2 separate regions of the Homo sapiens genome follow, and region 2 is linked to region 1. The links come from fine-mapping of genetic effects on gene expression. A gene starts in region 1. The other region holds a variant in brackets. All regions are shown on one strand. Distances are between the middles of the regions.

The links. PIP is the estimated chance that this variant, and not a neighbour inherited with it, causes the effect. A credible set is the group of variants that fine-mapping cannot tell apart.
Region 2: its variant is the best candidate, but not a certain one, in a credible set for the expression of TF in sun-exposed skin (GTEx, PIP 0.54).

The regions. Positions count from the first base shown.
Region 1 is chr3:133,743,864-133,749,235 of GRCh38, forward strand. TF (transferrin) reads left to right here and starts at 2,530. Exons shown (of 17, transcript NM_001063.4): 1 at 2,530-2,620; 2 at 4,549-4,721. The coding sequence starts at 2,578.
Region 2 is chr3:133,711,690-133,717,061 of GRCh38, forward strand. It overlaps a transcript of TF not described here. Among named protein-coding and RNA genes, the nearest start is that of TF, 32 kb to the right of the region's middle. The variant G/A (reference allele first, on the strand shown) is at 2,937.

The DNA.
Region 1 (5,372 bases):
TACAGCTAGGGCCATGCACACATGTACACCCCAAAGCTGGCCTCACCCCTGCCTACCCCATCCAAGGAATGGCAAGCACGAAGCTCTGCTGTTGTCCTCTTGAGCAAAAGCCAAGGCCCTGGCCTCTCCATCTAGGTGTGTGTAGATGACGTGGGAGCACCAGTTCTCTATGTCTTGTCTGAGCTTCCTTCATATCCCATGAGGCTGTATATTTCCTTCCCAGCACCTGTCTTGGGCTTGGACTCAAAGGACCCTTCTGAGGACAGGGCATAGAGCTGGCTGCTCTGGAGAGGACTCAGCCTGGCCAGTAGGTAGTTGCTCCCTGCTGAGGGGCTCTGGCTAGGCTATGGGCCTGTGGCTGGAGGACTGGCCTCAGCGGGGCTTAGTCTACGAATGTAGATGGGCTCCAGAAAAGGAGAATCACTGACCATCTTCTTTCCATGCCCTGCGTTGAGCTTCCCTGAGTTTGTGGCATGGGCTCAACCTTTCGTAACTGCACTTCCTGCTCTCTGGCAGACCCTGCAAGCTTACTACAGGGCCTGTCCATGCATCAGCTGTATGTGTGCATGCTGCTCTGCTGGGTGCCTTCCAGTTAGCCTTGCCCCTGACTTTTCCTGCTCATCTCACATCCTTACCTCAAGGTCTCCAAATGAATCCAGACCACTGCCTAGAGCCTGCTGCAGGGGCAGTAGGAATATGGCCCTCATGCTAACAGTCTTCTTTCCCTATGGCTCAAGCACAAGGGGCCCGTGGACGGGCAAGGGGGGAGTAAGACAGGGCAGCAGTGGTCACTCTCCCTCGCTGGTGAGGCTGATGTGTTGGGAAAGCCAGACTTGACTTCTGTCCTCACTGTAAACAGAAAGCTTCTGTAGTGGACTCTAAAGTGGGAGGTATGTAACCCCTTTGCATATGAGATAATCTTTTGGAGTGTGGGAGAACATAATCTAACTTCCAGTTATATTTATTGTTATTGCAAAAGATTAACAAATTATCATTCATTCATATTGAATGTGTGAATTGGCCCTATCTCCCACCTGAGTCTGCAGTCATGACAGATGGAGCCTTTCAGGTGTCCTAAGGGAAGATGGGGTTCACCTCACAATGCTAAAGGTGAAAAGGGGAGTGCCGACCCTGCCCTTTGTTTTGGCATTTTTATTTCCATACTTTGTGGTTTGTATGTGCCCAGTTAAACGGATGTACAGATTAGATAATCTGGCTTTAACTCCAACCTTCACGAGATGCACACATGCCTTAAAAAGATTCTTACAAAGAAACTAGAATTAGGAGACAATTCTGACAACACAAAAACAAGTGAACAAAAATCAAATGACTGACCTGACGTGTCCACTAGGCTTGATATGAGCTTGGTCAACTAAAACATGAGACAGAATGAATGACCATCTGGTCAGGTTGGATAAGAAGTAACTTTTGGCAAAATCTCTGAAGTCTGGATTTACACTTCGTGGAAGGAATCTTGACCTTTCCCCAAGTATATTATGCCTTGAGATAATAATCCTGTATAAGGCCGCATAAGCAAAACGACATTTGAAAATGAGTTTCATCTTTAGCTCATCCTTTTACAAATTTCTATTCCTTGTGCATGATTGAAGTGTACACATTTTTTAGTTAAAATATAAGCATATAGAAGGCACAAGTTCAATATTTTTCATGATAAGGATGTGTAATTAAACTGGTTAGGAGACTCATCGACTAGAGGGGGACATGGTGGCCCCAGGCTGTAAGAACAGGCCACACCGTCCACTGGGCCGCTTGCTTTGTGCTAAGATGACACTTTGTTCTGAGCCTCACAGTGTCTTGACCATGTTCCTGGAACCTTCTTGTTGGAGGGAGTTCATCTTCCCCTATGACTCTGTCCCTAGTCTAAGGTGTCCCACAGGAAGCTTGAGGGCGGGAAGTTTTCCAGCCCAGGAGCCTGAGCTCAGCGGGGCAGGAAGAGGGAGCAGCTCCTCCGTGGGGGACCTTTGAGAGCCCAGGAGCAGGATTTCGAGGGACACCTGGTGGGGAGCAAAAGGTGCTGAGTCTGTCTTTGACCTTGAGCCCAGCTTGTTTCTCCTGCATCCTCCCCCAAAAGGGGCTTTGCCTGTCATTCTGCAGTTCTAGTGTGGGGTCTGGGCGCAGTTCTTTTCCCTCTCCAGCCTCGGAGTCTTCCTCTGTGGACTGCGCAGATAGGACTGGTGGCACGGACCAGCTCTGCAGCCCTGGAGTCAGGAGCAGAGCCCCCCGGCTCCCAGCCCGCCGTAGCCGCTCCTGGCACCGAGCGAGCCGCGATGACAATGGCTGCATTGTGCTTCATGTCCCTTCCCATCAACATTTCTGTGCTGGACTCCTTCCACTCGCGGGTCGTCTCCAGAGCTCAGAAAATGAGGTGATCAGTGGGACGAGTAAGGAAGGGGGGTTGGGAGAGGGGCGATTGGGCAACCCGGCTGCACAAACACGGGAGGTCAAAGATTGCGCCCAGCCCGCCCAGGCCGGGAATGGAATAAAGGGACGCGGGGCGCCGGAGGCTGCACAGAAGCGAGTCCGACTGTGCTCGCTGCTCAGCGCCGCACCCGGAAGATGAGGCTCGCCGTGGGAGCCCTGCTGGTCTGCGCCGTCCTGGGTGAGTGCGGGCACGGGGTAGCACCGCAGAGTCGCTGGCCCGCGCGTTCCCTGCAACCCGGGCGGCCACCGCGCAGCCTGCATGCACTCCGCGCTCAGGCTGGAAGCCTGGGTGTCTGGGTGCCTTTCCATTGCCTCTCTACGCCCCACCCCTGGCCTTTGCTTGGGCTTCTAGACACCTTTCACTGCACTCACTGTCTTCTCCCCCTCCTCCTCTTTGTCCAGTAAATCTTGCAGCAGTGAAATACAATAAATCAGAGCACGTCTAACCAGGTTATCAAAACCCTTTGCTGCTGCCTCTTGTCAAGTCCGAACTCCTTAGCATGGCATTCAAGGCCTCCCGGGTCTGACCATTCCCCTTTCAGAGGCTGATGTCCCCTGGGTGCCCTGGGAGCTGTAGATGTCCTGCCAAGGAAGCGGTGCCATCGAGCGGTCAGAGCATGGGGTTTGAAGCCAGACTTCTTGGATCCAAGTCCTGGCCGGCTCCTCACCAGGGAGGGGGTCATCACAGCACTTGCCTGGGAGGGTCAAATGAGGGTCAGCGAGGTGGCAGATGCTGAGTACCAGTGGCAGATGTTGCACACATCCTGCTATGGGGCAGTGGCTGACGCCACACTCCCCGACCTCCTGAGGTGGGGCCCCCTTCATACTCTAACTTCTGCCTGCCATTCATGGGGCATTTGTCACACTGTTGGGGCTTCCACGTTTAGTTTTCTCTCCCCATAAGCTAGCAATTCCTTGAGAGAGGACCCCACGTTACTTGCCTTTATCCCCGCACAGAGCACTTCACAGGCTGTGCAAGGTAATGCTCCACTGAGGACACATTCTCGCCTATGGGAACTCTGGAGGCAGGGCTTTGTGGAGGGGCTGCCACAGGCTTATGTTGCCTCCTAGGATTTCCCATGGGCCAAGAGGGAAAATGGGGGTCGCTGGGGTGGCCATCCCTGGTGGCCCCTCCTCATGCATCCTGGAGAGCTGTGGGCCTCCTCTCCACAGGCTTTGTGGATCTTCTTCAGAGCCAGTGAGTCAGCCTTGCTGTGGTGGCCCACAAGGAGTGGAGATGACAGAGGGCCTTGGGGACAGGGCAAAAGCTCATGTGATAGGGATGCTGTCTCTGCAACCACATGGATTTTAATAGTTACCCATGGCTGGCTTCAGCTTTTTTTGTGAATGGCAGCCAAAAAGTGTGGTGAAAATGGAGGGATAGTTCAGTGGAGACAGAGGGGAGACTGTTGAATTTGTGGAGTTTTTAGTTCTTCCTAAACAGAGAGCAACAGACAAGAGTTACAGACAAATTAATTCTTTTCGTTAATTTACCCTCAACTACTGGCCAAGAAGGGGTGTAACTCAGAATGTTTTCTTCTTTTGTGCCCTGAGTAGCAGACCCAGAGTCTGGAGACCCAGATTCTAGGCCTGGCTTGGCCAACGACAAGCAGGGTGACCTTGGGTTAAAAAAAAAAAAAGGCATCATTCTCTGAGTCTCACTCCCTCTTCTCAAAAAGATGGCAATTCCTCCCCCGCTGGTTTTCCATAGTTGAGGTAGCAAGCCAATGTGTTGGGGTAGCTGAAAACGCCCTGTGCATACTGAGGCTTATGTTCCATGGGGGGCCAGGGGCCAGGACAGTGATGGGAGGAGACAAGGCGGATACAGAGGAGCAGATTGTCATCTCCAGCTGGGAGGTGATGGCCATGCCTGCACCCCTCTGGCCAGCAGAGGGTGGTCAGTAGGAAACTGGGAGGCCATTAGGGCAACCTTCTATTGGCTCAGACTCAGAATGCAGTAGAACTTGTGCCCTGTAGTGTTCATGGACAGGAGTGAGAGGAGGACAGGACTGAGGGGATGTGGCTGTCAAGGCCTTTCTAGGGGCGATGCTGTCTCTCCCTCAGCATAGGGAGTGGGCCCTTCCACCTCTGGCCTCTCTCCCCCAGGGCTGTGTCTGGCTGTCCCTGATAAAACTGTGAGATGGTGTGCAGTGTCGGAGCATGAGGCCACTAAGTGCCAGAGTTTCCGCGACCATATGAAAAGCGTCATTCCATCCGATGGTCCCAGTGTTGCTTGTGTGAAGAAAGCCTCCTACCTTGATTGCATCAGGGCCATTGCGGTAAGTCGCTGCTGCCTAAAAGAGAGTGGAAGAAAGCCATACTTTCTCTGTTTCCAGTCACTTTGGAACAATTCTTTACTCACAGGTAGGAGGCTGATATATGGGGCAGTCAACCTTGACTTACTAAAATCACTTCAAAAGTGGAAATGGGGAGGTTTTCTTTAATGTGTCTGGAAAGCAAAAGTCAAAAAGCACATTAACTTTTGCTTTCCAGACACAGTAGACGCAAGGGTGACTGTTTTGAGACCCTAGGTTCTCTGAACTTGGCGAAAATATAAGAATGCCTGCTATCAGGCTGGGCGCGGTGGCTCATGCCTGAAATCCTAGCACTTTGGGAGGCTGAGGCAGGTGGATCACCTGAGGTCAGGAGTTCGAGACCAGCCTGGCCAACATGGCGAAACCCCATCTCTACTAAAAAATATAAAAATTAGCTGGGCATGGTGGTGCATGCCTGTAATCCCAGCTACTTGGGAGGCTGAGGCAGGAGAATCACTTGAACCGGGGAGGCAGAGGTTGCAGTGAGCCAAGATCCTGCCACTGCACTCCAGCCTAGGTGACAGAGTGAGGCTCCATCTCAAAATAAATAAATAAATAAGAATGCCCACTATCAAAATTATTATATAACCTTCTTTGGCAGCTTTTGATACACAA
Region 2 (5,372 bases), 32 kb before region 1:
TCCACCCTGTTGCCAGGCCAATCTTTGCAAAGTGCAGATATGACCATATCCAGCTTACTGCCCCTGGCCCAGCATTGTCTAAAACCCTTCACAGACTTCTCATCTCTCTAACGATAAAGAACAAAACTAATGACAGTAAAAGGGTCTGGACCCTGCCCCCCACTGCACTCACCGTCATTTTCTTGGTGGTTTAGTCCTGAAGGCCTCCATGAGGCTCTCTGTGCCGTGCCTCCACCCCACCCCAACACAGGCCTGTGCAGATGCTGGTCCCCTGTCTGGAGGGCTCTTCCCCTCCACTCTTCACTTGGGTAACTCCTACTCACTCTTCATGTCTCGGCTTAAACCTTCTCCCTGACCCCTAGGGCTGCAAGGGGCTCTTTTATTGTAGCTTCATGGAACCCTATAATTTTTTCCCAGAGCAAAGAGGGAAACATGAATTTACTGGTGTGGTTACTTGAGTTCTGACTATCGCCCTACAGGCTGCAAGTTTTCAAGAGGGCAGAGCCTGTGTCTGATTTCCTCATGGTGGTGCCCTGGAGCCCAGCACAGGGCTTGGCAGCTGTGCCTCTCTAGACTCTTCCTGGACTTGAAGCTGTGATGGCACACCTTGTGAAAAAGGGCAATGGCAGCAGAGCCCAGAAAACATGTGCTCCGGGTTCTGCGAGCCAGGACTTCTCTTTTGTCCCCTCACTGTTAAACTCTGTGTCCATCTTTCGATGCCACTGCCCTGTGCTGGGATGGAGTAGACCCCTGTGAGCTCACAGACCCTTGATCCAACTTGAGTCAGTTCCCCTTTACTTAGCTCCAGCTGGAACCTTTTTTTTTTAATTCCATAAAGTCTTGCTTTTAATAATATGTTACAAATAACTGAATGTGTCTTTATCAGGCAATTTTGGGGACAGAATCTGAGGCTTTCTTGCTAACACAGGCAGGGAGGGCTGATCCTGACCTCTGGTTGTCCTTTCTCGCAGATGATTTCTTCAGTCGCAGTTGTGCCCCTGGGTCTAATCCGGATTCCCCTCTCTGTGCTCTGTGTGGTGGCAGGTGCAATCCTGCCCACATATGGGCTTACAACAGCCAGGAGAGATACTACGGCTCCAGTGGGGCTTTCAGGCAAGTAATGTCTGTGCACCACCTTTATCTTTGCACCAAGCCAGTACATTTCTTGTCCTGTCACTTCTTCCATCATCCCAGCATCTGGCTGCTGCATTTGGAAGGAGCCAGAATCTAGGAAACAGAACTACTGCAAACTTTGAATGGCTCCAATGACTCAAGTCCTGCTCTTCTCTAGGGCACTCTCCTGCAGACCCAGATGATTTAGGGCACCTTAGGGCACCTAGGGAGAAGCAAGAATGATGGCGGCAGAGTCACAACTCTAGTTCTACTTTTGCCACTTTCTTCTGTGTGACTGTGGACAAGTCAAGAATCCATCAGAGCCTTGGTTTAAAATCACAGGGGGGACACCAGACACCTCACTTCTTACACTTGGCTGGTAAGTATATTTTAAAAATAGATATTCCTGGGCTCCTCCATCCATTCAAGAAATATTTATTGAGCACCTAATAGGTATTGTTCTAACTAGAGGTGTTACAGCAGTTAAGCTGTTACCAACCATGGGTTGTTGGGCTCTCAATGCAATAGAAATTGTCATAAGGCCAAGATAGTTTTCCCAGACAAGGCTTTGTTGGAGCTTATGCCCAGGAATATGGGAGGCAACACAAGAGAGAGAGAATTTTCTGGCTGGCTCCCCAGAGGGTGTTGAAAAGGAAGTTGTAAAGGGGCCGCGGTGAGAAAGGAGTGATGTCTAGGAATGTAGAGGCAGGGAACTTTTAGCACCTCCACAGTTTGATGACATGCTTCTTCATGCATCGCTTGTCTTATAAGCATGTTACATCTCCACCCCTGGGTGTGATTTTTAGTATTATAATGAAGCTAAAGTTAAGGATCAGTCATTCTCCTGGCCTTGCGTGCATGTGGGAGATAGTAAGATTTATGGTGGGAGCTGCTGCTTTTAGCTTCCTCAGGGTCCGGCAGTCAGCAGGTATGGCTCCTTGAGCAAGGTTTATGTTGCAAGGTCTGGAGGGGCTGGTTGGGGTCCCTGCCACCCATGGGGCCTCCCCTCTACCAGTTTGCAGTGAGGTCCTTGGTGGGGTATGGGGGGTACCAAGTCCTGTCCCTCTTCTGTCTCAAAGCCACACATAATACCTGTCCCTCCCCTGCTCCCAGTCTTCTGGGGAAAGTAGGACAACAGCACATAAATAAAGGGCAGGATACTTTCCAACTGTAAGTGCTACTGAGGAACCAAGGGAGGTGATGCATCAGCAACCAGTTTTAGAAATTTCAGAAAAGGTGGTCAGGGCAGGCCTCAGCAGGCAGAGGGGTCATGTGGGAATCAGGCCTGAGAAAACCTGGAGGAAGAGCAACGTAGGATGAAGGAACAGCAAGCACAAAGGCATGGGGGCAGGGCAAGTCATGCTGTGTGGAGGCCAGAGAAGAAGGTCTGTGGATGAGGGCACAGAGAGAGAGGCACTGGCTGTCTCGGAGCCCTGTTGGCCTGGCTAAAGACGTAGATTTAACTCTAGGTATTGTGGGCAGTGCTGGACCTTTGAGGAAGCAGGGCAGTGCTGTATGAATGAGTTATGTGAACAATGTATGAGGCTCTAGAAAGTTCTCTTTTATTCATAGACACCAGGGTATTCCACTACCAGACTACTTTGTCCTGCCCTCTCCAAAGTTTTCTCTCTTTCATAAGCCATGCATAAATTACATATTTTCACAGATCTACAACAACATATACTATTATTACATTAAATCTGGATGAAATTGCTTAATTTTTCTTTACATCAGAAGGTGCATTGGTGTTAGGCTTGATGGTCTGTCTAGAACCACAACTTCTTCCAAAATGAACATACACATAAAAAGCAGTCTTAGCTTCA[G/A]ACCTCTCATTCTCTCCATCTCCTACCTGTCTTTTCACTTCCTTGAGTTGTTTTTTTGTTTGTTTGTTTGTTTTTTTGATGGAGTCTTGCTCTGTCACCTAGGCTGGAGTGTGGTGGTGCGATCTCGGCTCAATGAAACCTCCGCCTCCTGGGTTGAAGCAGTTTTCCTGCCTCAGCCTCCTGAGTAGCTGGGATTACAGGTGCCCACCACCACACCCAGCTAATTTTTGTATTTTGAGTAGAGACGGGGTTTCACCATGTTGGCCAGGCTGGTCTTGAACTCCTGACCTCAGATGATCCACCCGCCTCGGCCTCCCAAAGTGCTGGGATTACAGGTGTGAGCCACCACACCCAGCCCTTTAAGTTTCTTGACTCCTCTAGCCATTCACTCCTGGCTGACCTGTGATCTATCAATCCCGCACCTTTCCCCGTGGTCTTTTTTTCCATCCTTTCTGAGCATACATTTCACAATCAACTGTGCCTGCACTTCCAGCCTGGCTGGTTTCCCTTTAAGTGATGAGGACCTTGTTAAATGAGCCATGTATCTCTAGTCCTCCCACTACCCCATTTCTCCTAGAAGACAATTCCATACTTTCTCCTCTCCTTAAGCCTCCAACACTTCTTCCCCCACCTTTCATACCTTTGTTTCCTATTTCTCCTAAGAAAAGAAATCGAAAGATAAATTCTACAACACCCTGCTGCCATATCTACCCACATGCCAGCATCTGTGGCCCTAGTCACTGCCTTCCCTCCTCCTACTGGGGTGAACTGGCTGTCTCCTCGCTAAGTCCTGTCCTGCACCGGTTCAGGATTGTTGCCCTGGCAGTTCTCCCTTTTTCTGTGGCAGCATCAAATCTTCTTCTCTACTAGATCATTTCCATCAGCATACAAAACATGCTGCTATGTTTTTCCATCTTAAACACAAATAACTAAGTAAAACCTCTCCACCTCACTTTCCTCTCCCATTTCTCCTCTTCTTTTTACAACAAAATTCCTTGAAAGAGTTAAATATCTTTGCTAACTCATATTTCTCCCCTTTAAATCTCCCCAGGACCCAGTTTAAGAATCTGTTCAGGCCCCAAACTGCCAACATGGAGTTGGTTTTATTATTGTTTTTCAATGATCTACAGAAAATATACCTCTTTATTGTCAGAGTATGGGCAGACTACTCCCACCACTCCAACCCCCTTGGTACACCACCGACCACTGTGGAGATGAAACTATACCAGTGATCTCTGTTGCTAAATCGAAAGGCCAGTTCTTGGTCCTTGTGTTGTTGCAGGATTTTTAAGGAATCAGCTTACACACTCTTTAATTTCTTTTAATTCCTGTTCCAGTGTTAATTGATCTACCAGCATCACTGGCAGCCCCCATCACTTCCTCCTCTTGGATTTCTTCCCTGGCTTCTGGAATACCACACTCTCTTGGATTCTCCCTTCCCCCTCCTGACACTGCACCTCAGTCTCTTTTGCTGGTTCTGTCCACTTCCCCAGCCTCTACATGCTGGCATGACTCAGGGCTCTGTACTTGGAGTTCTTCTCTCTGCTGCCCATTCTCTTGGTGGGTTTATCTCTGTATGCTGACAATTCCCAAATTTAACATTCTAGTTCTGACATTTTCCTGAAACCCCAGACCTGTAGATCCAGCTGCCTACTGGCTATCTCCACTTGGATTTCTAACCACCATCTCAAACTTAAATGTCCAAAACTGAGCTCCTGAAACTCCATACACTCCCACCCAAGTGCTGCATCCTGTAGCCCACCTCATCTCAGTTAAGGGCAACTCTATTTTTCATTTTGGAAAAAATGTCAATACCTTGCTGCTTTCTGTGCCTGCCCTTGTTCTCTCTCACCCCATATCTCGTCCATCACCAAATTATATTGGTTGTACCTTCTCAAGGTATCCAGAATCGATCTCTCTGCCCATCTCCACTGATACCATTCTGACCTAAACCACCATCGTCTCTCCCCAGATTTTTATCATAGCCCCTTGACAGGTCTCCATGCATCTGTCTTGTCCCACTCTCCTCCACAACACATGAGCCAAAGTGATTCTGTTAAACTTAAAGCATTACATTAATACTTCTCTGCTCAAAGCCCACCAGTGATTTCCCATATCACTCGGAGTAAAAGTTAAGGTGCCTCTTTGATCTGTAAGGTTCTTTGTAATCTAAGAGGCCTTTGCAACCTCATCTACTTCTTTCCCTGTGCACTCTCTGCTCCAGTCAGCTTGGCATCTCGGCTGTTCCTTGAAGACCTCAGGCACACTCCTTCCCCGGGGACTTTGCACTTGGTCCTACCCCCATCTGGAGTGCTTGTCTTCCTCAGATCATCATGGCTAGTTTCCTCATTTTATTTAGGATTTCTCAGGGCAGACTTTCCTGGCCACTCTGTAATTTTCAACCTATAAACACACATGCTTGCACATACCCTTGCC